Linked DNA regions of Homo sapiens: region 2 is linked to region 1. The links come from fine-mapping of genetic effects on gene expression. A gene starts in region 1. The other region holds a variant in brackets. All regions are shown on one strand. Distances are between the middles of the regions. Region 1 holds the start of GZMB (granzyme B). Region 2 has its middle 62 kb from the start of GZMB.

Evidence for each region. PIP is the estimated chance that this variant, and not a neighbour inherited with it, causes the effect. A credible set is the group of variants that fine-mapping cannot tell apart.
Region 2: its variant is the best candidate, but not a certain one, in a credible set for the expression of GZMB in whole blood (INTERVAL, PIP 0.53).

What each region holds. Positions count from the first base shown.
Region 1 is chr14:24,624,812-24,640,536 of GRCh38, forward strand. GZMB (granzyme B) reads right to left here and starts at 9,379. Exons shown (of 5, transcript NM_004131.6): 1 at 9,295-9,379; 2 at 8,104-8,251; 3 at 7,513-7,648; 4 at 7,047-7,307; 5 at 6,143-6,403. The coding sequence starts at 9,349. The coding sequence ends at 6,260. It overlaps GZMH-AS1 (GZMH and GMZB antisense RNA 1), which reads left to right and starts at 8,291. Exons shown (of 3, transcript XR_007064087.1): 1 at 8,291-8,537; 2 at 9,485-15,725. RefSeq lists enhancers at 8,758-9,957, 14,072-15,271.
Region 2 is chr14:24,688,569-24,704,293 of GRCh38, forward strand. No RefSeq gene overlaps it. Among named protein-coding and RNA genes, the nearest start is that of GZMB, 62 kb to the left of the region's middle. RefSeq lists an enhancer at 6,624-6,673. The variant G/T (reference allele first, on the strand shown) is at 9,022.

The sequences.
Region 1 (15,725 bases):
ATCCAAGCTCAAGTGGGGTGACAGCAGCCTTCACAGATGCTTAGGTAATCATATAGAGAACTTGAGAAATTTAGGCCTATGACAACGGTTTCTCATAAAAAATATGGTGATTTGGTTCTACATATAATTTTCTAATCTTGGCTCATGTAAGTCCAGCCTAACTTATGTCTCTGACCTTGATGTTTTGATGAAATTTTCTGAGTCTAAAAGTTTGAAAATGAATAGTTTGTGTAAATTTAATATGGCAATGCAACCCTGTGAGTCTGTTAGGAACCAACCCTCAAGAATTTTCTAGCAGCACATACAAGGAGATATGGCTTTGTGACTGCCACCTCATGGAGGCTGCCCAAGGACAGCCAAATATGTAAAAAAATTCTAATAGCCAAGGCACTCTTGAGTAAAAAGAATAAAGCTGGAGGCTTTGTTTGGAGAAAGTATTTGTGATCCTTAAATCTAATTAGGGATTTATATCCAAAATATATAAGGAATTCAAACAACTCAATAGCAAGAAACCAAAAATCCCAATTAAAAAATGGGCAAAGGAACTGAATAGACATTTTTCCAAAGAAGACATGCAACTGGCCAAGAGATATATGAAAAAATTCTCAACATTACTAATCATCAAAAAATGCAAATTAAAACTGCAATGAGCTATCACTTTACACCTGTCAGAATGGCTATTATCAAAAAGACAAAAAATTATAAATGTTGGTGAGGATGTGGAGAAAAGGAAACCATTGTACACTGTTGATGAGAATGTAATTAGTATGGCCATATGGAAAGCTGTATGGAGCTCCTCAAAAGACTAAAAGTAGAATTATATGATCCTGCAATCTCACTTCTGAGATAGATCCGAAGGATTCGAAATCAGTACATTGAAGAGATAGTTGCACTCTCATGTTCATTGCTGCACTATTTACAATAGCCAATATATGGAATCAACAACCTAAGGGTCCATCAGTGGATTAATGGATAAGGAAAATGTGGTATATATACCCAATGGAATAGTATTCAGCCTTAACAAAGAATGAGATTCTGTTATTTGTTGCAACATGGATGAACCTGTAAGACACCATGCTAAGCAAGATAAGCCAGGCACAGAAAGCCAAATGCTGCATGATCTCATTTATTACGTGGAGTCTAAAGCAATTGAACTCATAGAAGCAGAGTGTGTAATGGTGATTACCAGAGGCTGGGAAGTGGGGGAATGAAAAGATGTTAGTCAAAGAGTACAAAGTTTCAGTTAGGCAGGAAGAATAAGTTTTTAAAGATCTATGGTACATCATGGTGACTATAGTTAATAATAATAATGTATGTTTTGAAATTGCTAAAAGTAAATTTCAAATGTTCTCACTACAAAAAATGTTAAGTATTTGAGATGATAAAATGTTAATTGGCTTGATTTAATCAGTGTACATTGTGTATATATATATCATAACATCACTTTATACCCCATAAATATATACAATAACAAATTTTAAAAAGTAAATTTAAAGCTGTCATTTGATAGCAGATTTAGTTTTTTAAAAATGTATAAATCCTAGCATGGAAAAAATAGCAAAGGGAGAAGGTAAAGGGAGTTAAATTTATTCATTACTTACCATGATCCAGAGGACACATTAGTTACTTTACATTTGTTGTGTTATTTAAAAATTCTAAATGGGAGCTATTATTATCACTTTTAAAGAAAAATTAGTACATCAAGGAGAATGGGATCCCTCAGTACACACTTGTATCCAAATGCAAGTTTTCCACTGTCTCGTCTTGTAAATAGTGATGGTCACAGGTAGGCAGATCTCAGCTCAGCTGTCATGGCATGTGAGTCTGATGACCTCAGGATCTCTCTCTAAGGAGGTATCTGAGTAGAGGTTGGAAGGGCTCTTGGCCAAGGAGGCTGGGAAGTCATTATGCGGGTGGGTGTTATACCATCTCTGAGAAGCTGTGCAGAAGACTTTATCTCAAGAAGCCTATCTGGTATGATTCTTTATCTGTTGTAGTGCCTCAAAATTTCCTTTTAAAGGGTCTTAGTAGTCTTATCTTTTGGGCTACAGTAGTCCTCCAATGACCTTCACTAATGGTCATGGAAATATTAGGAGGTATCTCAGTGAATCCCATCTTCCCATGGCAATCAGGATTAATCACCCAGCTACTAAAGTAACCTACTTATCTGACTGTTGACTTCTTTCTCAGGAATTGAGACCTCTAGACCAGTAAAGCTCAAGATTATGGTGTAACTCCTAATCAGAGGGGCAAGGAATGTTTGGAAACATTCCCTGTTTCCAAAACAATGTATTCTAGCTATGAAAGAACCAACATTGTATATTTATTATTGCTTAAAAGCATATGCTACATCCTCCCAGCACCTTGGGAGGCCGAGGCGGGTGGATTACAAGGTCAGGAGATTGAGACCATCCTGGTTAACACAGTGAAACCCCGTTTCTACTAAAAATACAAAAAAAAAAAAATTAGCTAGGTGTGGTGATGGGCGCCTATAGTCCCAGCTACTCAGGACGCCAAGGCAGGAGAATGGTGTGAACCCGGAAGGCGGAGCTTGCGGTGAGTCGAGATTGCGCCACTGCACTCCAGCCTGGGCGACAGAGCGAGACTCCATCTCAAAAAAAAAAAAAAAAAAAAAAAAGCATATGCTACATCCTGTAGCACAGCATCCCAATCTTGCCGGTAGCTGTTTCTCAGCTGTCATTATTTTCAGTCTTCAGTACGCTATTCTGCAATTCTCTCAGGTCAGCTACTTCTAAGTGTTATGGTCCATAAACACATTGCTGCCATGGTGACATATGTTAGTTGGTCAAAAGCAATGTTGTGTGGGTTACCAAGATAAGAAGTAAACCCTATAAGCTGTGTAAGTTCACAAAGAGTGGTACTGGGAGAAGCATGGTGGTGGGCTGGGAAGGCAGTCACACCAATACATATTCCCAGAAACAACTTAGCAAGATTTTGCTTTCTTTGGGGTCTATCTCCTCCATGAGCCCACTTGGCAGTTCTCTTCCTGACTGTGCTGGGACCTGATTCTTCCTGTGGCCCTGGAGGAAAAGAGGGATGGTGGGAGTAGATCTCAGTGGGCTGAGGCATTTCCTTTCCTAGAGTCAGTAGGGACACTAGAGAGATTTTAAGCAAGGGAAGGATTATTTCTTCATATGGTAGGGGTTGGGGGGGAAACTTCCACAGACCAAGGAGATTTGAAGCAGTCAGCATGTTTAAAGTACTTACCTGCCTCTGAGTCCACCCAAATGCACCTGTGGACAGATTTCAGCTTACCAAAGGGAAGTGCTTTGAATACTTCTCACTAAATAGCTGCTGGAGAAGCCCAAAGTCTTTCTTTCCAGGGAGGCGTCTGAGCATAAACTTAATTCTTGTCTGGAGATTCCAGAAAGTCATCTTGGGGTGAGCATTAGAAGACTTTTAAAGCTACTTTCTGGCCTGGTTGTCAGGGGGCATGGGCTCTGTTCAGGCTCTGTCCTAACTTCTGTGATATTTTCAGTCAGTCACTACCCTTTCCTGAAACTTTGTTTCTTTCTTCTTGCTCAGAAGTGGATAAAGTCCTACAACAATGATTTTCAAGCCTGTTTTAAACCACAGAACCATTTCCCCAAAGTAAGTATCATACCTAAACTGATTATGAATGTGACCAGGCAACTTTAAAAAATACTATTATTTTGTTTTGCTGCCTGTGTTTTCCTTTTCCAATGAAGGAACCAAGTCATTAGTATGTCTTAGGTGCAGGGATTTTTTTTCCAGCTCCAAATCAGAAGCTGTGTGACACCCACTTATTTTATAAAAGTGCCCAAGATTATTAAGAGATTGAGTTGCGGCCGGGTGTGGTGGCTCACACCTGTAATCTCAGCACTTTGGGAGGTCGAGGTGGATCACTTGAGGTCAGAAGTTCAAGAACAGCCTGGCCAACATGTTAAAACCCTGTCTCTACTAAAAATACAAAAATTAGTCGGGTGTGATGGCGCACACCTGTAATCCCAGCTACTCAGGAGGCTGAGGCAGGAGAATCGCTTGAACCCAGGGGGCAGAGGTTGCAGTGAGCTGAGATTGCACCATTGCACCCCAGCCTGGCCGATAAGAGTGAAACTCTGTCTCAAAAAAAAAAAAAAAAAAAAAGGATTGTGTTGCAGCATGCTTTGTGCACACTGAGATGAGAAAGGGCGCAACTTTGACAGTTACATGATCCTAGAGGGAGATTTTACTCCATGCCACAAGAGTGTAGCTGTGTATATTTGAGACAGGGAAGCATTAATCTAGAGCTAGTACTTATGTTCAACTCCCAGGCAGTACTCCATATTAGTGGCAAGACCTTGGAGAGGTGGTTGCTGGGAGTGTTTGGCAGGGTGAGCTTAACACTGGGCAACCCTTATTCAACAATATGTCATATACTCTATCGGTGGCCTCCAAGCCAAGAACTTCCTAACATTCACAAGTCCAGGTAGTTCTGGAAACTATGAATGTAGCAGTAATCAGTGGCCTAAACATTCGAGGCATTGTTCCATTTTTCCAGCCTGCGTGAGCCTTCCTGATTCTAGTTTCATTCTGTACAGGCAGGAGCCTGTATAATGACAGGGATTATGCTTCTGAGTGGTCCAATCAAATGGGTGTTTTTCCTACAATTTGAATCTTTATAATGACATTCATCCTTGCTACTTTTTAAACAAATGAAAATAAGCCTGCCCTAGTTGTCTTCTTCCTGCCCTGCTACTCTTCCCCCTAGGTGAAGATGACGCTCCATTGAACAGTTTGACAACTTCATGTCTAGAAAGTAAATGATTAAAGTTGTTTTCAAATCCCATACATTGCTGTTCTGGGGTCGCACGTGACAATACTTATACAAACTGTGTGAATATCTGGCCTCTTTCTCATATCTTCCAACCTACGATACCCAGAGACCCACGTGGTTCCATAAGGGCCTTGCCACTGAGATGCCAGCCCACCTCATGCCCTGGCAGGGAGGGGCCTCAGAAAAACCAGAAATAAAAATAAGATACAAATACTTTAATCCCATGGATTTCCATATACATCTCGCTCTTGTGAACTAATCTGAAGGACAGAAAGTGAGTGAAACAATTTGGATGAAAATTCTCAACATTGTCAGTTTCACTTGGGTTCAGATGATAGAGTCTGTTATTGTGTTCTCTTACTATCCTCTATGCCTGGTACATAGTAAGTGCTCAATGAGTATTTGTTTGTTGATTGATAGAAAAGATTGTGCTTTCTAGTCCTTCTGCAGAAAGGAGTCCTTTTGAACTCAAAGGGCTGATGTAGCCCAGGTGGCTAGCAGGGAATCTTAGCCTAGAGGCCAGCAGTGACCAAGAGGAACAGGTTTAAAGGGGCTCAGCCTGCTGACTGCCCAGGTGGGCAGTGAACCTTGAGTGTATGGGAGGACACTGGGCTGGATGGGAGGGGTTGAGCTGGCCCTACCTAGGGGAGAGATGGAGCCAAGGGTTGGAGAGAGACCGTGCCAGCCTTGTCCTCCATGGGTCTTACCTGGTTGCCACACAGGCCTGGTTTTTCTGAGGCCCCTCTCTGCCAGGGCATGAGATGGGCTGGCGTCTCAGTGGCAAGGCCCTTATGGAACCACATGGGTCTCTGGGTATCTTAGGTGGGTAGATATGAGGGAGGGGCCAGATCAGATCAGTGTGGTCTGGAGAGGACAAGAGTTGGTGGATTCTGAGAACACTCAGCAGGGATGAAGAGAAGGGGCAGCCAAGAGGCTGGAGGACGAGCTGAGCCTTGAGCTCAGAGGAGGGTAGAGAAACTAAGCCCAGGGGAGAATGAGGAGCCCCAGTGGGGGATGAGGAGTTAGGTCCCATGGTATTATCCCTTTTTTCTCTGTCATGTAACACTGGAGAAGGAGGTAAGAAGTTTACCCAAAGCCCCAGGACCAAAGTGGTCCATGTTGTCTCCTGATGGTGCTCAGCTTCAGCCTTGGCAGAAGGGCAGGCCCTGGAGAAACTGGTGTGGATAGGAAGGAGCTGAGTATCAGCTTCATGTGGGGGTTTGGGGAGGTGGCAAGGGGTGAGGGGAGAGGAGAAAGCAGAAAACAGCAAAATTGTGTCATTGGCCTGCATAGCGCAGATGTGGTGCCTGAGAATGAGGGTCAATGAATAAACAAGAAACCAGCTTTTCCACTCAGCTAAGAGGTATTTATTCAGTTGCTGGCACCTCTCCCAGTGTAAATCTGGACTTGGCTCCAGAGAAGGTGTTTCATTACAGCGGGGGCTTAGTTTGCTTCCTGTAGTTAGTAGCGTTTCATGGTTTTCTTTATCCAGTGTACAAAGCTTGAGACTTTGGTGCAGGCTCGTGGAGGCATGCCATTGTTTCGTCCATAGGAGACAATGCCCTGGGCCACCTTGTTACACACAAGAGGGCCTCCAGAGTCCCCCTGTGAATAGAGAGTGGAAGGACTGAGCTGATGCTCCTCCGGGTCCTGCCCTCTCTTCCATCTCAAGCCCCCTTTTAGAAAAGGCCAACTTGCACAGCCTACATGTGGGAGACCAGAGGGCAGGGCAGGCCGCTGGTGGCCCCCAGCTGCCAAGCTCTGGCCCTGGACATTGTTACTGCTTCACCTCATCCCAGGGGCCAGCCTCCGTCATGTCCCCCAGATCCTGAGATCGGAGGTATGTGGGACCGTTGGCTGTTTAAGGACCCAGAAGTGGGCAAGGAGGGCTGATGTCCACCATGGAGGACCAGCCCATTAACCACGTTGGGTACCAGCCTCTGAAGACACACCTGGTTATAATTACTGCACCCCCAGTGGGCACAGTTTCCTAATATCTGTGACCTGGAGTGGGTGGAGTGTTGCAAATTCATCCTTCCAAAGAAGCACCATCCACCATAAGCCTCCTGGTAAGTTTGCAGAGGCCCTAATTTCTCCCCAGCTCAGTCTAGTCCCCTCTTCTCTTTCCAGAGAGAAATATCACAGTCTAGTGGGTGAAGGAGTCCCCCACTACTTGAGTCTCCAGGTCTCAGATATTCCCCAAACATCTTTCTCCCAAGAGCCAATCCAGGCAGGTGCATAGTCTTACCTTAAAGGAAGTCTTTTTAATCTCTGGGTCCCCCACGCACAACTCAATGGTACTGTCGTAATAATGGCGTAAGTCAGATTCGCACTTTCGATCTTCCTGCACTGTCATCTTCACCTCTTGTAGTGTGTGTGAGTGTTTTCCCAGGGGGGCCGTCTGCCCCCAGCCGGCCACACTGCATGTCTGCCCTGGCTTCACCTGGGCCTTGTTGCTAGGTAGCCTGAGGGGCTGCACAGCTCTGGTCCGCTTGGCCTTTCTCTCCAGCTGGTGGGGAAGAGGCAAGAAAGTCCAGGTCAGCCAACGAACTTCTGGGCCCCGACACAGTGATGGGGCTGCACAATCTTCCCTCTCCTCTGAGGCATAGGAACTAACCAAGAGGCCAGGATGGAAAGGAGGGAAGGGCCGGCATTCCAGGGGGAGTGGAACCAACTGGACCAAGAAGAGCAAGAGTGGCAGGAGTGTGCCTCACCTGCAGTAGCATGATGTCGTTGGAGAAGTTCTTAGGATTATAGGCTGGATGGGGGATGGGTCTTTTCACAGGGATAAACTGCTGGGTCGGCTCCTGTTCTTTGATATTGTGGGCCCCCAAGGTGACATTTATGGAGCTGCACAGAGAGCAGAGTGAGGATGGGGGTGGAGTCACAGGGTATACAGCCCAGAGACAGTGAAGAGCAGGTGACAGCTGGGGCAGGGCTGCAGCTGAGGGGAAATTAAGGGGACAGTCGGTCCCCAGGAATTGGAATTCTGGTAATTGCACCAGGTTTCTCAGGGTTCGGTTCCCCCTAGAAACACAGGTGGAATTGCTTCAGTTTGTATTCTATGCCAAAGTATGCCCCCAGTTCTAAATATGGCAGGCTTGGTCACTCTGCTGTTTCTTACTTCAGCAGCACCTCTGGAACCAACCTTCCCCTCTCTCCACAAACTTAACTGCCCTTTTCTCACCCTCTAAGGAGACCTCCTGGCATGTGTGTTCACAGGAGCCCAGGGAGCTCCTTGGGAAGAAGGCAGGGGTCTCTGTGGAGTGTTTCCAGGAGGGTGTGGGCTGTTTTCTGCTCCTCACCTTCCCCAACAGTGAGCAGCTGTCAGCACGAAGTCGTCTCGTATCAGGAAGCCACCGCACCTCTTCAGAGACTTCTGATCCCAGATCATAAGATAAGCCATGTAGGGGCGGGAGTGGGGCTTGGCCTCATGTCCCCCGATGATCTCCCCTGAAGGAAAAGTCTGTCTGCTTGTGGGCACCCATGGAATCTGCTGGGTGGGCACCTGCTTAGTGGCTCCAGAACTCCTGGGCATTTGGGAGCCTGGGATAGCCTGGAGTTGGGAGTGGCCTGGAGGAAGGGGCTTCAATTTCCTGCTCTGAAAAAGGGAAGAACAGCAGACTTTGGTCTGTAAATCTTTCTTCCATATGTAGTTGAAGGCGAGCATACCTGTCTTAGGGACAGTGAAATCCCAGAGGCTCCTGATCATTCCTCTCCTGACTTTGCTTTGTTTCAGGTGAGTTTCCAAGACCCTTATGAGTCCTGTGGTGTCTAGGATAGTGCTGCTTTCTAATGGCCAGGGTGTAAGTGGAGGGATCTAGATACTGTCATATCCTGTTTCCTAGAGCCTGACATGTAGTGGGTGCCCAGTAAATGTTCATGGCTGCATGATGGACTGGCTCCAGTTAGCCTCTGGATGAGGGCTGGTAGAGCAGTGCTGGTGGAATTCTAGAAAGCAGGGAAGCTGGGGCCTGCCGTAGTGCCTCATCCTTGGAAAGAGGGGAGCCACCAAAGGCCAGGGAAGAAAAGCAGAGTTGGAGAATGGGACTGAGCAAACACATTAACAGTGTTCTGAGGACAGTGATTGTACCAATTCTGCTGTCAGCTGAGCTCTGGGTTTCTCTCCTAAGTAGACAGTGAGAGAAGCACCTGTCTTATCCCAGAAACAGAAGCCAGGCCTACTCTAGAATAATTTAATATTTCTCTTTTCTAGTTTCCCATCCTCTGCCATTTACTTCTAGGAAAGTCCTACTCTCCAGGTGACAAAGGTGGGCTCTGGGGAAGGGATAGTACCCACTGGCTCTTCTTGAGAATGGCCTGCTGCTCTGCCATTCCTGCTGATAGCTTATCCAGCATCACACTTGGGGGGTCTTGGTAGAATGGGAGCTGGAGTTCAGAACATTCCTGGTAGATAGATGGATCAGGAATGTGGAGAAAGGGCAGGAGACCTGTGGGATGGGGTTGGGCCCCCGAGGGTGGAGACGGTCACTCACCTGCATCTGCCCTGGGCAGCAGGAGGAAGGCCAGCAGAAGCAGGATTGGTTGCATCTTCTCAGGAAGGCTGCCCTGGTTGGAGCTGCTGTTGTTTCCTCCTTGCTCTCTTTTAGCTCTTGGGAGAGGAAAGAGGTGGAGCAGGCTCAGTGACTTCATGTTCCCCTCTGGTTTTGTGGTGTCTCATCACAGATTTTCTGTAAATGCTGCCCACCCCCACTGCCTCTGCCTGATGACGTCCTCTGGGTGCTTGTGTGAGAATCATGCAGTGACCACATCATCACCCACAGCTGATGACTCAGAGTGGACCACCTATTCAGCCCAGAGCAGGAACCCAAGCCTATGAAGTGAATTGTAGGATGTGGTATCAGCCAGTAGAGGTACTGGAGCACCAGAAACCTGAGTTCCCAGTGATAGAACCGCCAATGCCTCATGGCCATGCTGCTAAATCCATCAGGATAGTTTCTTTAGCAGGTATGTGTTTGAGCCCTTCTGTTGTGCTAGAACCAAGCATGTTGGAGATGTGTCTCCTTCACTTAGAGAGCTGACCATCTGGTTGAAGAGACGGAAATGCCAGGAGCCAGAGTACAGTTTGGGGAGGGCTATGGTAGCACAATACACAAGGCAGTAACAAAGCATGGCCACCATCTACTAGACCCATCTAGCAACCCATTTATTATCATAGCTTCCTTTCTAGAGAATTTCTAACATCCCTTATTTAGTTACAAATGTTTAGTGTGAGAGTCCACCTCTTTTCTGAATGCTTTCAATAAAAGTCCTGTACTTGACATTTTATTGGGCTAGATTAATGAATTGCTAGGAGTCAAATCCACTTTGGGTAGGCTGGGGTCAGTCTACTCAAGCCACTAGAACCAAGAATGAGAAAGGGCTGGTTCTCTAAAGGACGTTTGTGGTGCTAAATTGCTGATACCATATGAAGTGAGGAAGCATGCCAGGCAGCCAAAGATCAGTAGTTGTGTTGTTTAGTATTCTGTCTCCTGTCCAGAGAGCCACACTTCTTACATAGCAGGCTCAGCACATAACAGGCTCACAGTAAACATTTGCTAAACAAACTACACTAATGCTATCATTATAATGGATGTGAAAGATTGTTGTTTCTGAACAGCCCGTGCCCAATTCTGTTAAAAGACAACTAAGTCTCTCTACATGGTTCGATTCTTGTGATTTGTTTCCACCTTTATATTTTCTGTGAGGAAATTTTTCTATGAGGAATGGTATATCTCAAAATATAGAATTCCAGTGTAAACGTCTTCCTTGTCAATAGCAAGCCAACTACATTTATCAAACTTCTATTTTTTGAACCTAGCTTGCCCCATAGTAGACGTTTTAAAAATAATTTTTTCTGATTATAGTCATAATATATGTTTGTTAAGAAAATTTGGAAAGTAGGAAGGGAAAATATCACTTTTTAACCTGTCTCCCACAGACTGACTGTTACCATAAGCAGTGTGTTTTAAATACTTGGGATCACATTGTACATACAATGCAATTTATTTTATCCTTGATTAACCCTACAAATTAAGCATTTTCCCCATGCTCGTAGAAATCTTAGTCAATACAACTATAGTCTTTCTTTCCTAGGCATTAAAAAATTTAATATGCAAGTAATTTTTAAATAATTTTAGCAAAGCGAAAATAATAAACATTACCTAATTTCTCATCATTCACTGATAACCATCTTTAATGTCTTGAAATATGCTCTAGCACATTTTTTCTCATGTAATATCTGCATTTTTTAAAATTAAAAGGGGATTATGCTAAACATAAGTTTATGACCCATTTAAAAAATTGAGGTAAAATTCACATAACATACAATTAACCATTTTAAAGTATTCAATTCAGTGACATTTAGCACATTCAAAATCTGCAACCACCACCTCTGGATATTTCATATAAACGGAATCACACAATACATGACCTGTTGTGGCTGGCTACATTCACTTGTAATAATGTTTCTGAGATTCATACAAGCTGTAGCACATGCCAGTATTCGTTCTTTTTAATGGAAAAATAATATTCCCATTGTATGTTTATACCACAAGTTATTTGTTCATCTGTCAATGGACATTTGGGTTGTTTTCATCTTTTGGCTATTGTAGCTAATGCAGCAATAATAAGCATTTGTGTACAAATTTCTGCATGAACAATATGTTTTCAGTTCTTTTGGATATATACCAAATATATATACTTTTGGAATTTCTGAGTTATACAATAATCCTATTTTTAATTTTTTAAGGAACCACCAAACTGTTTTCCACAGTGGTTGTACCCTTTTGCATTGCTTATCAGCAACATAGGAAAGTTCCTATTTCTCTGCATCCTTGCTGACACTTGTTATTTTAAAATTATTATCTTCATCCTAATGGGTGTAAAGTAGTATGTCATATGGTTTTGATTCACATTTCCTTTATGAGTAATGATGTTGAGCATCACTTCATGTGTTTGCTGGTTATTCGCATATCTTCTTTGGAGAAATGTTGATTCAAGTCCTTTGCCCATTCTTAAAATTGCGTTGTTTTTGTTTTCATTGTTGAGTTGGAAGAGTTTGTTATATATTCTGGATACTCAGCCCTTATCAGATATGTGGCTTGTAAATATTTTCTCCCATTCTGCAGATTGTCTTTTCATTTTCTTGATATTGTCATTCCATGTGCAAATTAAAAAAATTTTATGCATTCAAATGTATCAATTTTATCTTTTGTTGCTTGTGCTTTTGGTGTCAAATTTAAGAATCCATTGACAAATCAGAAACCATGAAGATTACGCCTGTTTTCTTCTAAGAGTTTTATGGTTTTGGCCCTTATATTTAGGATTGATTTATTTTAAATTAATTATTGTATGTGACATAAGGTAGGAGTCTACTAGAGTATTTTGCACATGGCTATCCAATTGTTCCAGCACCACTTGTTGAAGATATTATTCTTTCCCCACTGAATGTTCAAGACCCCCTTGACAATCCTTATCAAAAATCAAATGGCCATAAATGTTGTGTTTATTTCTGGACTCTGAATCTATTCCATTGATCCATATGTCTATCCTTATGCCTTTGCCATGCTGTTTTAATTACTGTAGCTTGTAAGTTTTGAAATTGAGAAGTGTAAGTACTCCAACTTTGTTTTTCTATTTCAATATTGGTTTTGCTTTTTTGGATCCTATGGAATTACATATGAATTTTAGGATTGGCTTTTCCATTTCAGCAAAGAAGACCATTTGAAATTTTGACAGAGATTGCATTGAATCTATAGATTGCTTTGGGAAGTATTGCCATTTAACAATATTAAGTATCCCTATCCGTGAACATGGGACATCTTTCCATTTAATCAGCAATTATTTGTGGTTTTTAGTGTACAATTCTTTCACTTCCTTGGTTAAATTTAGTCCCATGTATTTTATTCTTTGGGATGTTATTATAAAGGAAATTGTTTTCTTAGTTTCCTTTTTTTATTGTTCATTGTGGGTTTGTGTATAGAAACACAACTGATTTTGTACCCTGAAATTTGTTGAATTTGCTTATTAACTCTACTAGTTTTTGTGTGGATTATTTGGGATTTTCTTTGTATACAGTCATGTCATCTGCAAATAGAAATAGTTTTACTTCTTCCTTCATAATTGGATACCTTTTCTTTCATTTTCTTACCTAATTGCTCTGTTTAGGAATTCCAGTGCAATATTGAATAGCAGTGATGAAGTGAGCATCTGGTTGGATTTTCTATTTCTTCTTGAGTCTGTTTTGGTAGTTTCTGTGTTTCTAGTAATTTGTCCATTTCATCTAGACTACCTAATTTGTTGGTGTACAAATGTAGATAGTATTCTTTTTATAGTCCTTTTAATTTCTCTAAGGTTGGTAGTAATGTCTCCACTTTTATTTCTAATTTTAGTAATATAAGTCTTCTACAAACTTCACCATCTCCTATATTTTTCAGGGACTTGGGGAGAAAAATTAAGGAGGTGCTGAAGAATAAAAGTCTTTTGTCTATATCTCTGATGTTAGATTCTGATTCTGTTAGAAGAGAGAGGTACCTCAGTGGCTACCATATGGTGATGGAAAAGTTTATTCATATTACACACGCTCTTCCCTTTTATTCCTTATTTCCCTGCTGTTCTTAATCTGTAGAAGAATGTCATGCCTTGCCCATGAAGGGAAATACTCTTGGGTATTAGCCTTTCACTGAACCACAGCTAGTCCCTTTTCGAAGTGGCCAAGGCCAATCCTTACAGGTAAATGAGAACAGCACAATGACATGACATTCCCACACTCATACATGACATTTGATTCTGATGTTGTGACCTGATTTCCCTGAGCTTGATCATTCTCTTAAGTCATGGCAAAGTCAGAACTTACAGGCATAAGGAGCCAGAAGTTGGCCCTAGATTTCATTTGACCATGAGACTCAGCTATGTTGTAGAGAAGAAAATCTGTTTTTTTGTTTTGTTTTGTTTTTTGAGACGGCATCTTGCTCTGTCACCCAGGCTGGAGTGCATTGGTCCGATCTTGGCTCACTGCAACCTCCGCTCCCTGGGCTCAAGTGATTCTCGTGCCTCAGCCTCCGGAGTAGCTGGGATTACAGGTGTGTACCACCATGCCCAACGAATTTTTGTACTTTTAGTGGAGGCAGGATTTCACCATGTTGCCCAGACTGGTCTTGAACTCCTGGCCTCAAGTGATCTACACACTTTGGCCTCTTAAAGTACTGGGATTACAGGTATGAGCCACCACACTTGACCTGTAGAGAAGAAATTCTTGTCTCAGTTAAAAGTTATCTCTGTATTCCTATTAGGATAGGATGCTAGTCAGAATTCCTGGGATATGTACATAAAATCAAAAATAATTTGAGATAAAAAATCTGTCAGCAAAGAAGAACTTAGGTAACATATTAGAGTGGAGAATGTGGTACTTCCATTTTGCTTCTGTGGTAGTAAGGATTGGGAAGAGGGCAGAGATGGGAAGAGAAAAGTGTTTCTAGGACAGACATACATCTATTATTTTTCTGGAGTTTGAGTATCTACTAGAACAACCTTTAATTTTCCCTTATTGCCTATTCTTATCATTGCCCAGCCACCATCACAAATGAAAAAAGGATGGAGAAGAACAAGTCTGGATGTTGGGTTGGGGACAATCCAGTAAGACTCTGGAGTGGGTAAATGTCTGGTGTGGATGAAAAGAGGCCTACAGAAGAAGGGGGAGTAGAAGTAGGTTTGAGTGAGAACAGTGCGCCCACCTCCACCAAACCGGGAGCAAGTGTGACAATACAGACTCAGAAAAGTAAATTGGCATGGACTGCACTTCCGGGTTGGAGCAAGTTGAAAGGCATCAATGTTCTGGGCTGTGATGTCACCTTCAATGTGACCTTGGGTCATTCTCAAGATCCACCCCACATCCCCATAACCTGGGGGTTTTTACATTCCCAGGATCTTTGCCCACCAAGGCCACTGCCCTTTCCCAAAGCATCTTGTTTCCACAGAGTCTGAAGTTCACATACTAATGTTCTGGAGTGATGGACTCTCTCTTAAGTATCTTGTTTACAGTCTCATGCTGTGCATTTTTTTTTTTTTTACCATGTCTGCATGGGATATGGCAAAGGGTTTGGTTTAGTGTAGATAAAAAGAATGCTGCAGAATCATTCGCTAGAACCTTTAGCATATGATTGCAAAGTTGGTGGGTCTTTCTCTTTTTCTCTCTATCTCAAAGTTCAGGGCAAGTATAATAATAAGTTATTGTGTTTGGAAACAAATTCATGCTTAAGCATTCTTATGTTATATCCCCTCTCTGTTCCCCAGACGTGGTATGACATCTACTTGTGGACACACTCTGCTTTCTGGTTTTTCTGTTTCTGATTAGAAACTCAAAAACAATATGAGAAACATACCTGAAAACAGCAGAAGATCTGGATCATTCCGGCCAGCAATTCAAAGTCTGCCAAAGGGAAATCAAGTATTGTAGAAACCTACGGGGCCTCTCAGAGCATTTTACCAGAACTGTGGCAGGGTGACTGATTGTGGTATTCTCTTTGTATTCTCTATGCTGAATCATTTGCCAGAACTTCCAATATATGATTGCAAAACTAGACTTTTTTAATGTTATCTTGTCTCAGATTTCTAAGCCTGAAAGATTGAGGCTGTTGCTGAACGATGCTTAATTAACCAAGGCATTGAGCTCCAACCATGAGGCTTTGAGGAGTTTGATATCTAGCCCCTCTTGGCATCATATGCTAAGACTGGCTGTGAGGCTATGAGAATCTTAAGTACCTGCACGCTGTTCATAAGTGGTACTCTAAAACTCCTGAGGAAATAAGGGAGACTGGAATTAGTGGGATTAGCTTGTGGGATTAGCTTGTGTCCTTTGGCTTAGCCTCTTTCTCTCCAGAAATTTCACTTTTGGCTCAGTCCTCACAGGGGAAGAAAGTCTTGTCCA
Region 2 (15,725 bases), 64 kb after region 1:
CTCAGAGGAAGACCTGGGTTGAAATGGAGACCGTAAGAAAGTGAAGAGGCAGAAGAAATGATCCATTCTAGATCTCTCATTCTGTAGATTAGGAGACCAAGACTCAGAGAAAGAAAATACAGTAGTTCCTGGCAGAGCTAGGATTAAGTTCTCTCAGTCTCTTGACTTCCAGCCTCTGCAATCCTCACCCTTCCACGGAAGCCATTTTACCTCATTTATGCCCATTTTCTTACAGTGTAGTTTTATGCAGAAGGCTGGCCACATTCTCACAATACCAGGTCTTTAGAGCACTGCAACCCAGGAGGCCCTCAATAAGGAGGGTTCACATAGATGAACCTTCCACATGAAGCATGTGCTTTTCCTTCAGTTTCATATGATGTGATCCTCACTCAGTAAAGCCTGTGAAATATATTCCAGGAAGCACTGAATACTTCTTTCATCTTTATTTATAAACTTCTATGAGTCCTCCCAGCCCGTCCTCCAACTAGCACATCCTCACTGCCTTACAGAGCAGGAACCCAAGCAAGTACTTGAAGCTTAATTGATCTGGATGTTTAGAATCAAACTTCATTAGCTGAAATTACTGCAGTTTGCCTAATTTGTTTCTCTATGTGAGCTCTGATAAGGTTGGTTTAACATCTTCTAAACTGTGGTGTTTATCATCATCAATGCCTACTCAAATTACCCCTGCAGAGTAATGGGCCAGGAGAAAAATGGTTTAAAAGTTATAGCTATTTTTTGTGGACATTTCTACACATACCATATACAGTATGTGGTGTCCAAGTCACTACAAAAAAGCACTTATTTCCACAGGGCAACTTCACTTTTTAAAAACAAAACACTGCCAGAAAAATCTTGTCAATCATCAATATTCAAACATTTTTAGGTGTTAGAAATTCTATACATTTTGAGATTTTTTTTTCTATTTATAGACAGTGATTAAACCCATTGTTTTGTTATTTTTCCAGTCTGTTAGAGACTTTTGACTAACCTGTGTGTGTGTATGTGTTTGCAAATACATACATTTGTGTTTGTGAACAAAGCATTAATTTAAAAGAGGTTTGTCTCTAAGAATGACTCTATTGATCTATTCCAAATGCAAATAAACTTTTAGCATGATTGAAAGTCGTATTGAGTCTCCAGGAGGAACAATGGCTACTTACAGAAGCAACGGTTGCTTGTATAAGGAACAATGGTTGCTTCTATAAGAAGGGGCACTGTGAGGGAAACTTTCTCCTATAAACCCATTTATCTATCTTTAATTGCACATGTTATCTTCTCCAATAATTAAAAACAAAAAATGCATTGTCAGTAACAATAATCCCAAATAATCATTTTTCCATACTACTACTACCTGTTAGTGGTGCTATATATATAGCTTATATTACTATCTACATACAAATACGTCATTTCAGTGTGTTCTGGCAGTAGCCAGGTAGGTGTTTGAGCGTTGTGTTGACAGTCTAACCATTGGTAATTGCTTTAACATGGAAATTTAATGTGAGGAAGCATGGCCAACATGCAGAATATAGAGACTTATTTTAACATCATCACACGTACCTCAGTATTTTGTGTCCTTCTCCTAGGATGAATGAACATTTCATTCATTCATGCTGACAGAAGCTCTGGTTTCAAAAGGGACAAGTCGCCACCAGATTTGTAAGAAGTGTGTCTTTTAGATGGTCTAGTTAACCTTTCTATATTGATAAAAACCAGCATTATTTCCACATTTCCTCATACTTCTTAAGTATACCCACTTGTGCTAGAAATGGAAAATTCAGAAAATGAAACATGTAATCCAGAGCCCAAACACCATGCCTACAAAAAATAGGGAACTCAGCTAATAAAGCAACATTTGTCTTTCTTATTTGTTAAGTTATCTACATGATTGTATCAATTCTTGACTGAAATACCATGCACCCCTGGACTGACTGCCTGGGAGTACAAATGATGTAGGGAGTAATTGTGGTCACACTGGCATGTGTATTTAGGTTTCACTTAACAGTTCTCACCAGGGGAAATGTGAAGCACCTGGCCCCTTGTCCCTTCTCAATGTCTCCCCGACATCTGTTATTTTAAGGAGCCCTCCAGGGGTCACTCTTCACTTAAGGCTCACTCTAGAATACCTCTGAACTCCTTCTCACTCCTCTGGCGGCTTGTGCTTTGCTGTTGTTCACTTGCAAGCCTCTTTCCAGGCGCTTCCTCCAGGTTAACATGACACCACTGGAGCTGCCCACCTGGCCAGGAAATGCCACCTGCCCTGTGTGTGGGCCCTTGCTGCTGCCATCCACTTGCCAATGGAGAGGGAAATACCCACCGTCTTCATTGGGTCTGACCCTCTTACCGGGATCCCACAGCCAGGTTTCATGGCCCAGAGCTGCTCCAGTGCTTTGGCTTTTTTTTAGAAAACAGCTTTATTCAGATAATCACATACTATACAACTTGCCCGTTTAAAGTGTGCAAATCAGTGTTTTTTGGTATATTGTGTTATTAATTTTTAAAAATTATAAAATGTATACAACAGAACATTTACCGTTTCAACCACTTTTAAGTGTACAATTCAACGGCACTAATTACATTCACAATGTTGTGCAAACATCACTATTTCCAAAACTTTTTCATCATCCCAAACAGAAAGTCTTAACCATTAAAAAATAACTCCTTATTTCTCTCTCCTCCAACACGTGGCAACCTCTAATCTAATTTTTACCTATGCATTTGCCACATTCTAAGTACCTCATATATGCAGAATCATACAATACTTATCTTTTTATTTTGGTGTCTTTCATTTAGCATAACGTCTTCCAATTCATTCATGTTGTAGCATGCATCAGAACTTCATGACTTAATGGCTGAATAATATCTCGTATGGCTATACCACATTTTGTTTTTACCTGTTCATCTTTTGATGGACATTTAGGAGGTTTCCATCTATTGGCTATTGTGAATAATGCTGCTATGAAAATTGGCTTATAAGCATCTATTTGATACAATTGTTGGATCATATGGCAATTCTATGTTTAACTTTTTGAGAATTGCCAAACTGTTTTCCACAGCAGCTGCACCAAGGTACATTCCCACCAGCAATGCGTGAAGGTCAACGCTTTTACTTTTACACAAATACCACGTTTTCCCCCAAGGCAGGTAAACACTGACAGGGCTGCTTGGAAAGGACAGTTTCAGTTCACAGGTGGATGTTCAGAGGTACCTAGTGCCTCATTCTAACCTGGTTTCTCTTTGCTCCTTCAGTTGTCTGCTAGTCATATTTGTTCATGCCTGGCCCCCAGTTATTAATACAGGTTGAGTTCTAGTCCCCGAAACTTTTTAAGCCTTAATGCAAATTAGTCAAAAAAACGCAGATATAAGAAAGGGGACCCACTGCTAGTTCCAGACCCAAATGTCTACTTTGGCTTAGCTGGGTGAAACTTTTAATACTGTATTTATGTAGAGACTGAGCTGGTGGCTCTGCCTGAAAAGGCTAAACAATTTAACGAAAAAAAAAGTCATTCATTCGATGAGTTATGAACTGGTTAATAAGCCATGTGAGTCCAGGCCCTTCAGGAAGCAGGCACCGAGATGGGATGAAGGCTGGACATGGTGGCTTGTGCCTGTAATCCCAGCACTTTGGGAGGCTGAGGCAGGAGGATTATTTGAACCCAGGAGTTTGAGATCAGCCTGGCCAGCATAGGCAGACTCTGCCTCTATAAAAAGTAGAAAAAAAAAAAGAAAAATTAGCCAGGCACTATGGTGCACACCTGTGGTCCCAGCTACTTGGGAGGCTGAAGTGGGAGGATGGCTTGAGCCCAGGAAGTTGAGGTTGCAGTGAGCCATGATCACACACTGCGCTCTAGCCTGGGCAACAGAGCAAGACCCTGTCTCTCTCTCTCTCTCTCCAGAAATACATTATAATATATAATTAAACATATAGAAGTTATTATATATTTATAATTTAATTATAATTTTAAAACAATTTAATTATAATTTAATTCCTATATATTTAATTATAACATATAATTAAATATATATTTATATTTATACATTTAATAGAACTATATATTTATTTATATTTATATATTTAATAGAAATATATATTTATATTTATCTATTTAGTAGAAAAAGAAAGAAAAAGAAAATAAAAAAAAAGATGGGATAAGATGTGCAAGAGATCTCTTTGGGAAATGTCTGAGGTGGGCAGGAAGTCAAAGGGGCCAAAAGAGTCATCAGTTTGAGACATAGTTCTGGCTCCTAGTCAAAGCTGGGCATCAGAGGAGGCCCTCATTTCCGAGGAATGGGCCTGTCTCAGTCTCGGTCATGCTCAGTTTTGAGCTGGAAGCAGCCCTGGGGAGGCAAGGTCTCAGCACAAACACAGCGATGGGTTTCAGAGCAATAGCTGGGGCCGCAGTCGAACTTCTGAAAGGCGCAGTTCCATTGAGATGATCAAGTGGGTTTGTGCATAGTGACATTTAGAGCGATTCTTAGGAAGTTTCCGGGAAAAAAAAAATTCTACTGGGAGGATCTTTCGGCATTTCCTGTTAGAGGCCTTCTCTTCTGACAGCCCTCTAGAAATTTCACACTGTACTCTATTTACTTATCACAGCAATCTGACAATGTCTCACCTTCCAAAGTGCTTGGGGTTTGTGGTCAGCTATGTGTTAACTTTTTGATCAAAGTGGGGGGTTCTAAGTAGAACGACTTTAACAGAAAGTCATTTGGCACTGAATCTGCTGAGTGACTATAGCTTTGAGTGCTTTGACAGCTATGAAACCACTCTATTTTGATTAAGTCCCTTACCCAAATGGCTCAAGTGGTGGGGTCAGAACTGGAAAACAGACCTCCTGACGCCCAACCCAATGCTTCTCTCAGTATTTTTCAATGGTATTTTATTTTCCCCTTAAGTTCTCCTTCATTGTTAGCGATAGTTTGGACCCCTGAAAACTTCACCCTGGCTTGCAAATCCCCTGGGACCTGTGGGACCTGTGGGCATCTAAGAGGGATGTTTTGCTCAACGTGGTGGGAGGACTTCATTCTATGCCATCTCACCTTATCTCTGATGCCTGCATTTACCATTTCCTCCTCATTAAAATCTTCACTCACTTATCCTTTGTCTCCCAGCATCCTCTCTCAGTTCCAGCCACAAACCTTGGCTGTGTTATCCCTGCTGCCTCTGGCTCCCCTCTTTTGACCCAGAGTCCCACTGGGTGGATCAACCAGGAGCTGTCTACACATTGGACATAGCTTGGGGCCTTCCCACCCTTGTGTTAAGGGACCCCACGCAGGAAGGTTGGCACCTGCAGCTTGGCCACGCATCAAGGAGTGAATTACTGATGTCATGGAATAGGCTTTTGAATTCAGCGGACCTAAGATACCTTCCCACCCTCAGAATCTGTAAACTTTTAGAACTCTATTCATAGCAGGAATATACTCTTCTCTGTGGCACTGAACTAAATTAGAGAAAATGCATTGACTGCGGACAGGGAAGGGAGTTTGATTAATTAGGGGCCTAGCTCAGGCATGGCAGCAAACTTTCACTGCTCCTGCTGTTGCTGTACATTAGCATTCAGCTGTTGCCGAGTTTTAAATAGCACCTCTCCCCCAAAGGAAAACTTCAAGGTCCATTCATTTACTAAAGCCTACAAATTTTCCCAGGGGATCAAATGCTAGACTGTCAGCCCTAGGGTCAGGGAGGCTATGCTTACACAGTTCAAGGAGAGCCTAGGGAAGGTTTCTTTTCCCTGCTTTCTGTGCATGCTCCTGGGGAGGGAGTCTTGTGTTTGCTACACTGTCTTTCCTTATTGGGAATGGGGGCAGTGCAGCTTTTGCTGTCTGGATACAACATTTTTACATATAAGACAATGGGGTTTACAATTCTGTTTTCATTTCACTCTTATTAAAAACAAAATGGAGGCACTAAGACATTTTGGTCAAGAAAAATACAAGTCAAGGCTGGGAAGTACAAACAGCAACACGAGGACCCCATGTTTGTAGAGCCTAACACAAGTTACAATGCCTTTCATACTCAGAAACTGATTTCATCTTACATACATCTTGAAGGGTTTACAGGGCAAATGCTGTTATCTCCATTTTATATGAAAAACATTCATTCTTTTAGCAAGCAAGTACTTAGTATCTACTAAAGTTTCCTTCCTAATATTTATTGAGTGCCAGGCATAAGTTACTTGCTATCTAATCTAAAGCCCAGAGTGACCCTGTGAAATAGTTGCTATTGTTAACCCCATTTGGCAGGTGAGAAAATGAAACCACAGAGGAGTGATATGGGATGGCAGAGTTAGGATCTGAGTTTGTGCTGTCTGACTCCAGAACCAGTGCTCTGGACTGTTCTGCGGTACCCACAAGCAGTCTGTTAACCACATGAAGAAATAATGACTCAGGTCGAGTGGATAAATGCTGCGAGGGAAAAGTGCAATGTGCCACAAGAAAATAGAACAAGTGTCCTAACAATCTAGAGATTGAGGAGAGGCTTCTTTAAGAAAATAACAATTAAACTGAGGCCTGAAGAAGGGGTAGGAACAAGACAGGGGAGTGGGGTGAGTGTGGGAAGAGTGTGCTAGAGAAAGAGAACAGCACAGGCAAAGTCTGAGTGATGGAAGGAGACCACACTGTGAAGGACTTGAAAGAAGCTTGTCTGTTTGCTCTCTAGAGATCATGGGGGACAGAGGGAGATGAGGTTAAAGAAATAGGCAAGGTAAGGCTTGATGGTTCATATTAGGAATTGACTCAAAGCACTGGTAATCCACTGGAGGGAAGATTTCAGCCCATGGAGATGCATGTGGCTGCTGTGAGGCGAGAGGATTAAAGGAGGCAAAAGCAGAAGTGGAGAGAGTGGCCAGGAGACCATGACAGGAAGTGGACGCAGAGAAAGGAACAAGTCGGCTGATGTTGAGGAGGTAACGTAAAGTTGACATGACCTGGTGACTGCTGTGAGCTGGGAGGAAGGAAAAGCAGACAACATCCAGATGCGTGGCAAACCCCTCAGTTGACAGTGATGCCATTTCCTCAGAGCAAACACCAGAGAAAAGCCAGGTTGGTGATGTGGTGAATAAATAGAACACAAGTGAAATTTTGAACAAGTTGAATTTCAGATGTCAGGGAAATATGCAGAGAAGCACATGAATCTGGAGCTCACAAGGGAGTTCTGTGCTAAATATACACATCCATGAGTCACTGAGACGAGCCCCAGGGAAGAGTAAAGTTGAGGCCTAGATTATAACCCAGCACACTACCATATTTCAAGGTCCTGTAAAGAAGGGAGACCCACAAAAGAACAAGGAGGAAAAAAGAAAAAAACAGAACTATGGAGTTAACGAAAGGGGTGGAAAAAAAGAGGGACTATGTAACTAATGTGAAGACATCAGGTAAAATGAGGGTTGAAAAGTGATTTAGGTTCTCAAGGGCATGAGTGGTCTTAGCAGGGGCCATTTCAGTGCTGTGGTGGGTAGAGACATTATGTTACAGTGAGTGGAGGAGTGAGGGAGTATAGGGTCAGTGAGTGGCAGAATGAGTGGACAATGAGTGAGCGAAAAGAAAGTGCATGGAAGAGTGAGTGAGTGGAGGAGTGAGTGAGTGGAAGAGTGAGTGGAGGAGTGAGTGGAGAAGTGAGTGAGTGGGGGAGTGAGTGAGTGGGGGAGTGAGTGAGTGGAGGAGTGAGTGAGTGGAAGAGTGAGTGGAGGAGTGAGTGGAGAAGTGAGTGAGTGGGGGAGTGAGTGAGTGGGGGAGTGAGTGAGTGGAGGAGTGAGTGAGTGGAAGAGTGAGTGGAGGAGTGAGTGGAGAAGTGAGTGAGTGGGGGAGTGAGTGAGTGGGGGAGTGAGTGAGTGGAGGAGTGAGTGAGTGGAAGAGTGAGTGGAGGAGTGAGTGAGTGGAGAAGTGAGTGGGGGAGTGAGTGAGCAGAGGAGTGAGTGAGTGGAAGGTGAGTGAGTGGAGGAGTGAGTGGAACGTGAGTGAGTGGAGGAGTGAGTGGAAGGTGAGTGAGTGGAAGGTGAGTGAGTGGAAGGTGAGTGAGTGGAAGGTGAATGAGTGGGGGAGTGAGTGAGTGGAAGGTGAGTGAGTGGAGGAGTGAGTGAGTGGAGGAGTGAGTGGAAGGTGAGTGAATGGAAGGTGAGTGAGTGGAAGGTGAGTGAGTGGAAGGTGAGTGAGTGAGTGAGTGGAAGGTGAGTGAGTGGAGGAATGAGTAAGTGCAGGAGTGAGTGAGTGGAGGAGTGAGTGACTGGAAGGTGAGTGAGTGGAAAGTGAGTGAGTGGAGGAGTGAGTGAGTGGAAGGTGAGTCAGTAGGGGAGTGAGTGAGTGGAAGGTGAGTGAGTGGAAGGTGAGTGAGTGGAGGAGTGAGTAACTGGAGGAGTGAGTGAGCGGAGGAGTGAGTGAATTGAAGATGAGTGAGTGGAAGGTGAGTGAGTGGAAGGTGAGTGAGTGGAGGAGTGAGTGAGTGGAAAATGAGTGAGTGAAAGATTAGTGAGTGAAGGAGTGAGTGATTGGAACATGAGTGAGTGGAGAAGTGAGTGATGAAAGGTGAGTTAGTGGGGGAGTGAGTGAGTGGAAGGTGAGTGAGTGGAAGATGAGTGAGTGGAACGTAAGTGAGTGGAAGATAAGTGAGTGGAAGGTGAGTGAGTGGAACGTGAGTGAGTGGAAGATGAGTGAGTGGAAGGTGAGTGAGTGGAGGAGTGAGTGAGTGGAAAATGAGTGAGTGGAAGATGAGTGAGTGGAGGAGTGAGTGAGTGGAAGATGAGTGAGTGGAGGAGTGAGTGATGGAAGGTGAGTGAGTGGGGGAGTGAGTGAGTGGAAGGTGAGTGAGTGGAAGGTGAGTGAGTGGAGGAATGAGTAACTGGAGGAGTGAGTGAGTGGAGGAGTGAGTGAGTGGAAGATGAGTGAGTGGAAGATGAGTGAGTGGAGGAGTGAGTGAGTGGAAGGTGAATGAGCGAGTGGAGGAGTAAGTGGAAGGTTAGTGAGTGGAAGAAGTGTGTGGAGACAAAGATTGCTGACAAGAACTCATAGTATTTCGCTGTGTTGTGC[G/T]GGATCTCCATGCTGAGAAAGATGTAGTGTCCCTGTAGGCTGCATGGTAAGCCACGGTTTCAGGCAGGCGCACAGGTGTGCCCGGTGGAGAGTAGTGGTTTTTCAGCCACCAGTACGGACTGATTCTTCGGTAACAAAACTTGCTCCTGTTGACTCCTATCCTGTGTTAATTTTTAAAAGTTTTCCTAATGACTGCTGAATGAGTAATACTCTGGGTCAGATTTTTTTTTTTTTTTTTTTTTTTTTTTTTTTTTTTGATGGCGTCTGGCTCTGTCACCCAGGCTGGAGTGCAGTGGCGCGATCTCAGCTCACTGCAAGCCCCTCCTCCCAGGTTCACTTCATTCTCCTGCCTCAGCCTCCCAAGTAGCTGGGACTACAGGCGCCCGCCACCACGCCCGGCTAATTTTTTGTATTTTTAGTAGAGACGGGCTTTCACTGTGTTAGCCAGGATGGTCTGGATCTCCTGACCTCGTGATCCGCCCGTGTCGGCCTCGCAAAGTGTTGGGATTACAGGAGTGAACCACCGCACCCGGCCCTATTCTGGGTCAAATTTTACAATTTTTCTTCTGGTTGGACCTGTCTGTCTTATACATAACTGATGGTTTTGGCTCCCTATAATAATGTAGAATTCATGTCTATATTTCCGTTTCAGGCCTTTTGGTCCATAAGAAAATCTGTTGTTTTAGATAAGCGAAGTGAAGACTATGCTGAGGTTATGTGCGTGCATTTAATTAATGTGTAGCATCTCGTTTTGTGGCACTTAGGAAAAAGCCGCATGAAGAGGAGGGTATTTTAGGAAATCTAAGACTGAGCACTGGTTTGTCCATGGCCTGTGGCTTTGACAAAGCCCTCTTCCACCTTTGGGGTCACGTGCAAATCAAAGTGAGAAGTAGGCAGCATTTTTGTGTGCTCAGCCACAAACCCTAGGAGTCCTGATGGACATTTCATCGTGATGCACAATGGAGGCATCTTGATGAGTGTCAGGAGGACAGATTGTAATGCTACATTCATACGAGGCACTCCTTTGCCAATTATTCCCATCCAAGAGTCATTCATTTTTTATATTAGAATGATATTAAATTATAACAAGAATGAAAGGTGAACTAAGAAATCTTACTGCCCACATAAATCTTCCCTTCTGGTACCATCATTCTTCAAAAGGAAGAAGGCATATTCTCCCATATTTGTAGAGGTCCTGCTTCTGAGGGTCCTAGGGACCCTGTAGATGTCTGGAGGACACAGCAAAAAAAAAAAAAAAGCTTTCTAATTGTGTGTGTGTGTGTGTGTGTATCGTTTGGAGCCAGTGTGTAAATTGAGATCACAAAATTCCTGAAGAAGTTCAAGGTAGTGTTTCTAGAATGTTGCAACACTCCATATGAAAGGAAAAAGTCAACTGTTTACTTGGACTTAAAGGGTGTGTCTGCAAAAACGTTACCTGGATTTACTAGATATTTTGCCATTGAGTAAATGTAACCTGGTCTAAATTTCATCCTAACTTGGCACCCATAGATTGCTCTGACATCCAGCTGTTATTATATCCTGGCTAATGGTAAAGTGGGTCATTGTTTCTAATTTTTCAGTAGACTCATGTCTCAGGTTGTTTTGAGCACTTCCTTCTATATGGTAAATCATTAGTTGCAGTTCCCAGAACTCTGCTTCCTCTTTCTATCTTCTTCATGTGGTAGCAATAACAGTATAGAATAAAGCTAAATAGCACATTCATCTATGAAATGCAATCACATTCAAATGAAACTCACTTGTTTGAGGCTTTTGAGCCTGCAAAGTAACTACCTATTTGATGAACCAAAAAGGAAGACAAGCCATTTGACTTAAGAGAAAAGACCAGGGGGTTTCAGGGTCTTTGTCACAAAGCTATTGCTTCTTGAATGGCATTGTCCCAGGCCTGGAAAGCAACTGACTTCTGAGACAAGTGCAGTTTGCCTCAAGCCTCACTGCATTGTGCCATTAGATAGAACCTGAGTGAGACCCAAAGATGATAAAACTGTGCAGCCTACCTGACTTCTTGAAATTCCTTTGTTGAAAGAATCCTTAATTTTGAAATTTCTCCAAGACATTTAATTTGCTCAATTTCTTAATAAATCTTCCTGTAATTTCTCAGTGGGCCATGCAGGCAATATTTACTTTATTTGAATAATGACTAACAATATAGATAAGGAAGCTTCTCTTTAAAGTGTATCAATTGATGAATGACTTGGGCAAGATTCACTTTACGGCTCTTGGCTGTATTATTAGTCATTTTATAATAATGAGTTTTTGTCACTTGAAAATTCAACTTTCTTTGTGAAAACCCAGTTATAGTCACATGTGTTTGGTGCTGTTAGCTAGGGAGAATGTGACCATACTCACCCTGTGACAATTCAATGACTTTGGCTTTGAAGGAAAAATTTACTAAGCTTTTTGATAGTACACCCTTGAAGAGCACTGCCCAATAATATGGAGAATCACAAAGCTGGACAGGCCCTTAGATCTCTTCCAGCCAAAGCCCCTGATTTACAGAAAAGTAAACTGAGGCACAGAGCCGACCACAGGGTTACCTGTATTGTTAGGCTGCCCACCCTAGATCAATACAAGTTTCCCATGTGCTTCTGCTTTTAGGAAATACATGGGGTTTTGTCCCAAATTTACCCTCTAGTTGGGGAGGTAAAAGTGGCACATGTAAACGTTTAAAGATAGCACACAGCAAGATATCAAGTATAATCAGATGTAGCCCGTACTCAATGCAACAGGCTGCATTTTATAGCCATGCTGCATATTAGGACCAGTCCGTAGTTCAGGTTGGAAAACAAAGCAAGTTTTGAGGCAGAGCAGAGCAGAGAGAACCATCATTCTGTGGTATAACATAATCTGGGCCATCTGCCGCTTTAGTCTGGGTTACATGTGGCAAAACTGTCGAGTGCATCAGCCAGAGGGACTCCAGGATGCAGATAACCCAGCTTAGAACCACTCTGACAAGAAGATCAGGAAAGCCTGAAGCTCTTGCCCCACGGGACTTTCTTCCATCTCATTCTGGCAGTGTCTCCTAAACAGGAGGCCCATATAGTACAGGAGCTAATAGCACAGGTTCTAGAGCCAGATGGACCTGGATAGGTCCCAGCCCTGCTAGTATGTCATTGTGTGACTTTGAGCACATTATTTTACTCAAGTTTCATTTCCTCATCTGTAAAATGAGGATATAATTAATGCCTGCCTCACTAATTCTGTGAAGATCAATTGAGATAATGCATGGAAGTAAAACATCCAGCAATTTCTGACATAGAACAATGCTTATTGCAAAGATCTATTATTAATATACTCAAATAAACTATGCTATTAGCAATGAGAGAGTGTGTGTGGGGGTGCTGTGTGTGTGTATATGTTTCCATATACCATTTTCTGGCTGTTTTAGCCATCAAGGAGAGATTTGAATTATGGAATCCAATTGGTTGTACAAGGAATAGCCATATAATGGCTGGAAACAACAAATGATGTTAAGGTGGAATCCTAAGGAACAGCTCATTTGTAAGTGGTCCTGTGAATTGTTAGAAGTTTATCAATCGGCTTCTTTTTTACAGGCACAAAGGAAGACTACATTTCCCAGGCTGCCTCACAGTCAGGTTCAGGCCATTTGACTGCATTATAACCAATAAGATGTGAGAAGAATTCATGTGCACCACTTCCATGTTGAATGTAAACCCACTTGATGATTCTCTACTCTTGCCACTCTTTCTTCTCTTTTCCATGGTCACATGTTCCAGATGGAGTAACTACCACATGGAATGAGCACATATCCCTTAGTTATTGCTGGTAGCAGAGCCAAGGAGTGCAGTTACCCACAGTTTATAAAATATTGCATGAGCAAGAAAGAATGTTTTACTCTGTTAAGTCTCTGATTGGAGATACTATAATAATATTAGAATAATAATTTGGAAATTATTATGGAAACTAGTGCTAATTATCCTAATGCCTAATTATGCAAACTGGTTGACTAGAACTATTCAAATGCAAAGAAAATGAAGATAACAAAAATGTCCATATTGAAATAATTCAAAGACCAAGTTTAATAACACTCAATCATATTAATAAAACATACAAGCCATTTTTAACATCATCCCAAAAATTATGTTATTGGGTTGAGTTTACTTTTGATTATGCAGTTAACCAAATAGTTTTTTTTTTTTATAATATCCCAAAAGGCAACATTCTGACTTAGGACTGAAAACAGGGTATATGTTTAGTTGTTGCCTGAAAATGCCCTTCACTACATGCTGCTGAGTGAAAAACAGGAGCATGTTTCAAAAAAGTATAGATTGACTTCATTGAAGAAAAAAACAATTACAGTGTCTACAGTGATGTTTCTCATGGCAGTGGGGTTATAAATAGTCAAGTAATTTTTCCCATGTACTTTATTATATTTTCTAAATCTTCCACAAAAGCACATATGACTTGTAAACATGGAGATAGTAAAATGCTGTCTTTAAAGTATGCTTTAAATATTATTTCAAGTTCTTTATTCTTTTACAGATAAATAATCCCTGAAATTACTAAAATAGAACAACAACAACAACAAAATAGGCTATTCATATAGATTTTGATAGCAAAATCTTGCTTTACAAAGATTTGTATCTTTGAGCTTATGGGCTTGAGCAAGTCAAGTCACATCATTAGTTGCAGGTTGTGGGAGGAAGGGCCACAGCTCAGCTAGCAATACCAAGGTGATTTTCAAAAGGAAGGTTTTAAGCTGAAATAGCAGAAAGACCAGAACATTGGCCTGAAATATCTGTGCTTGCTTTGGAAAAATATCGGTAAGAAAAATTCACCGTAAGAAAGACATTTCTGGTGAAGTTTCTTTAAGAGTCTTCTAGTGGCCTAAGTTTTTAAGTTTTTTAACTGCTTTATTGAGGTATAATTGTTATATGAAAAAAACTTTCCCATATTTAATGTATACAATTTAATGTTAGGCCATAAGCATACACCTGTGAAACCATCACAATAATCAAGGTGGTAAATATATCTATCACCCCCAAAGATTTCCTGTTGCCCGCTCCTTCTTTGTGCAGGTAAGAACACAACATGAGATAGACCCTCTCAAATGCACAATACAATACAGTATCATTAACTATAGAAACTATATTGCACAGCAGATCTCAGGAAGTTATTCATCTTGAATAACTGAAAGTTTATACCTACACAACAACAACTTCCTATCTATCCCTGCCCGAGACCTTCCCCCAATCACCATTCTCTGCCTCTGTGAGTTTGACTATTTTAGATACCTCACATGAGTGAAATCAGGCAGTATTGCCCTTCACATACAGTCCTCCAGATTCATCTATGTTGTCACATATGGGAGGATTTCCCTTTTTCCAATGCTGAATAATATTCCATTGAATGTATATACTGCATTTTCTTCAATCCATTCATCCATCAATACAATTTAGATTGTTTCCATATCTAGAATATTGTGATAATGCTGCAATGAACATGGAGTGCAGATATCTCTTTGAGATTCTGATTTAAATTTTTTGGATCTATAACCTGAAGTGGGGTTGATGGGTTATATGGCAGTTCTATTTTTAATTTTTTGGGGAACCTCCATACTGTCTTTCATTGCGGCTGCACCATTTTACATTCCCACTAACAGTGTACAAGGGTTTAAATTTCTCCGTATATTCAGCAATTTATCTTTTGACTTTTTGATAACAGCCACCCTAACAGGTATACAATGTGCATCATACACCGTGACCTAGTGGGATTTATCCCTAGGATGCAAGAATGGTTCAACATGTGGAATTCAATGAATGTGAATTCTGTGTCCCTTCTGTGACATCTCATCACCTCCTATGTGACTAGGTCTTGGTGGGAGAACCAAGATCTCTCTTGCCAAACTTCCTTGTCTTAGAACTTGCAGATATCCATTGTTGCCCAGTCATGCCCCAGCGCAGCATAAGCCTGCCATGCGTGCTGATGGCTAGGAACTGGGGTGGTCAGAGACAACTGAAGAGATGGGCTTTTCTCCAGTTGGACCGAATTCTGGACAGTGACACTAGTTTCTTCTCCGTAATAGCTTGACCCTTTTGCCTTGGCTTAAGTTTGGTTTTCTCTCATCCCACTTATATCCAACTGAAGCTCAGTCTTCACAAAACTTCCTGAGAAAGTGTCTGAACTCCAACACACAGTTGCAGAACCTTCACTGAGCATTTGCTAAGTGCTAGCATCGAGTTAGGCCTGATGACCCACTCAGACTTTGTCGTAACATCTGTATAGTACCACTGCATGTCACTCACATTGGAGAAAACTCAAGCTCAAATGGCTGCCTAAGTGTTCTCTCTTAGATTAATTTTAAGGATGCCAAAGTCAATCTGGTAGATAGACTGGAGATGGGCATCGTTTCCCTCACTGACTTGATTTGTTATTTAAATTATTAGGGTGATAGTGGAGGCATAGAAGTGGGGTTCTGATGGAAAAACCTCCAGCTCGCTTGTACATTGCGGTTCCCTCTGTCACAGGTACTTGGAGCCAACGCAGGCACAGCAAATGAAGCAGGTCTCTGTTTGACATCCAGAAGACATAAGCTTTATTTTTTCTCACTTCAGGGTGAGAGGAGAGGAAAAGAATATTTCTCAAAAGTTTTTTCCTCTATGGACATCTGCACATAACATGACTTTGCTGAGGTGCCTGGCTGCAGGTGCAGTATGTGGTATTGC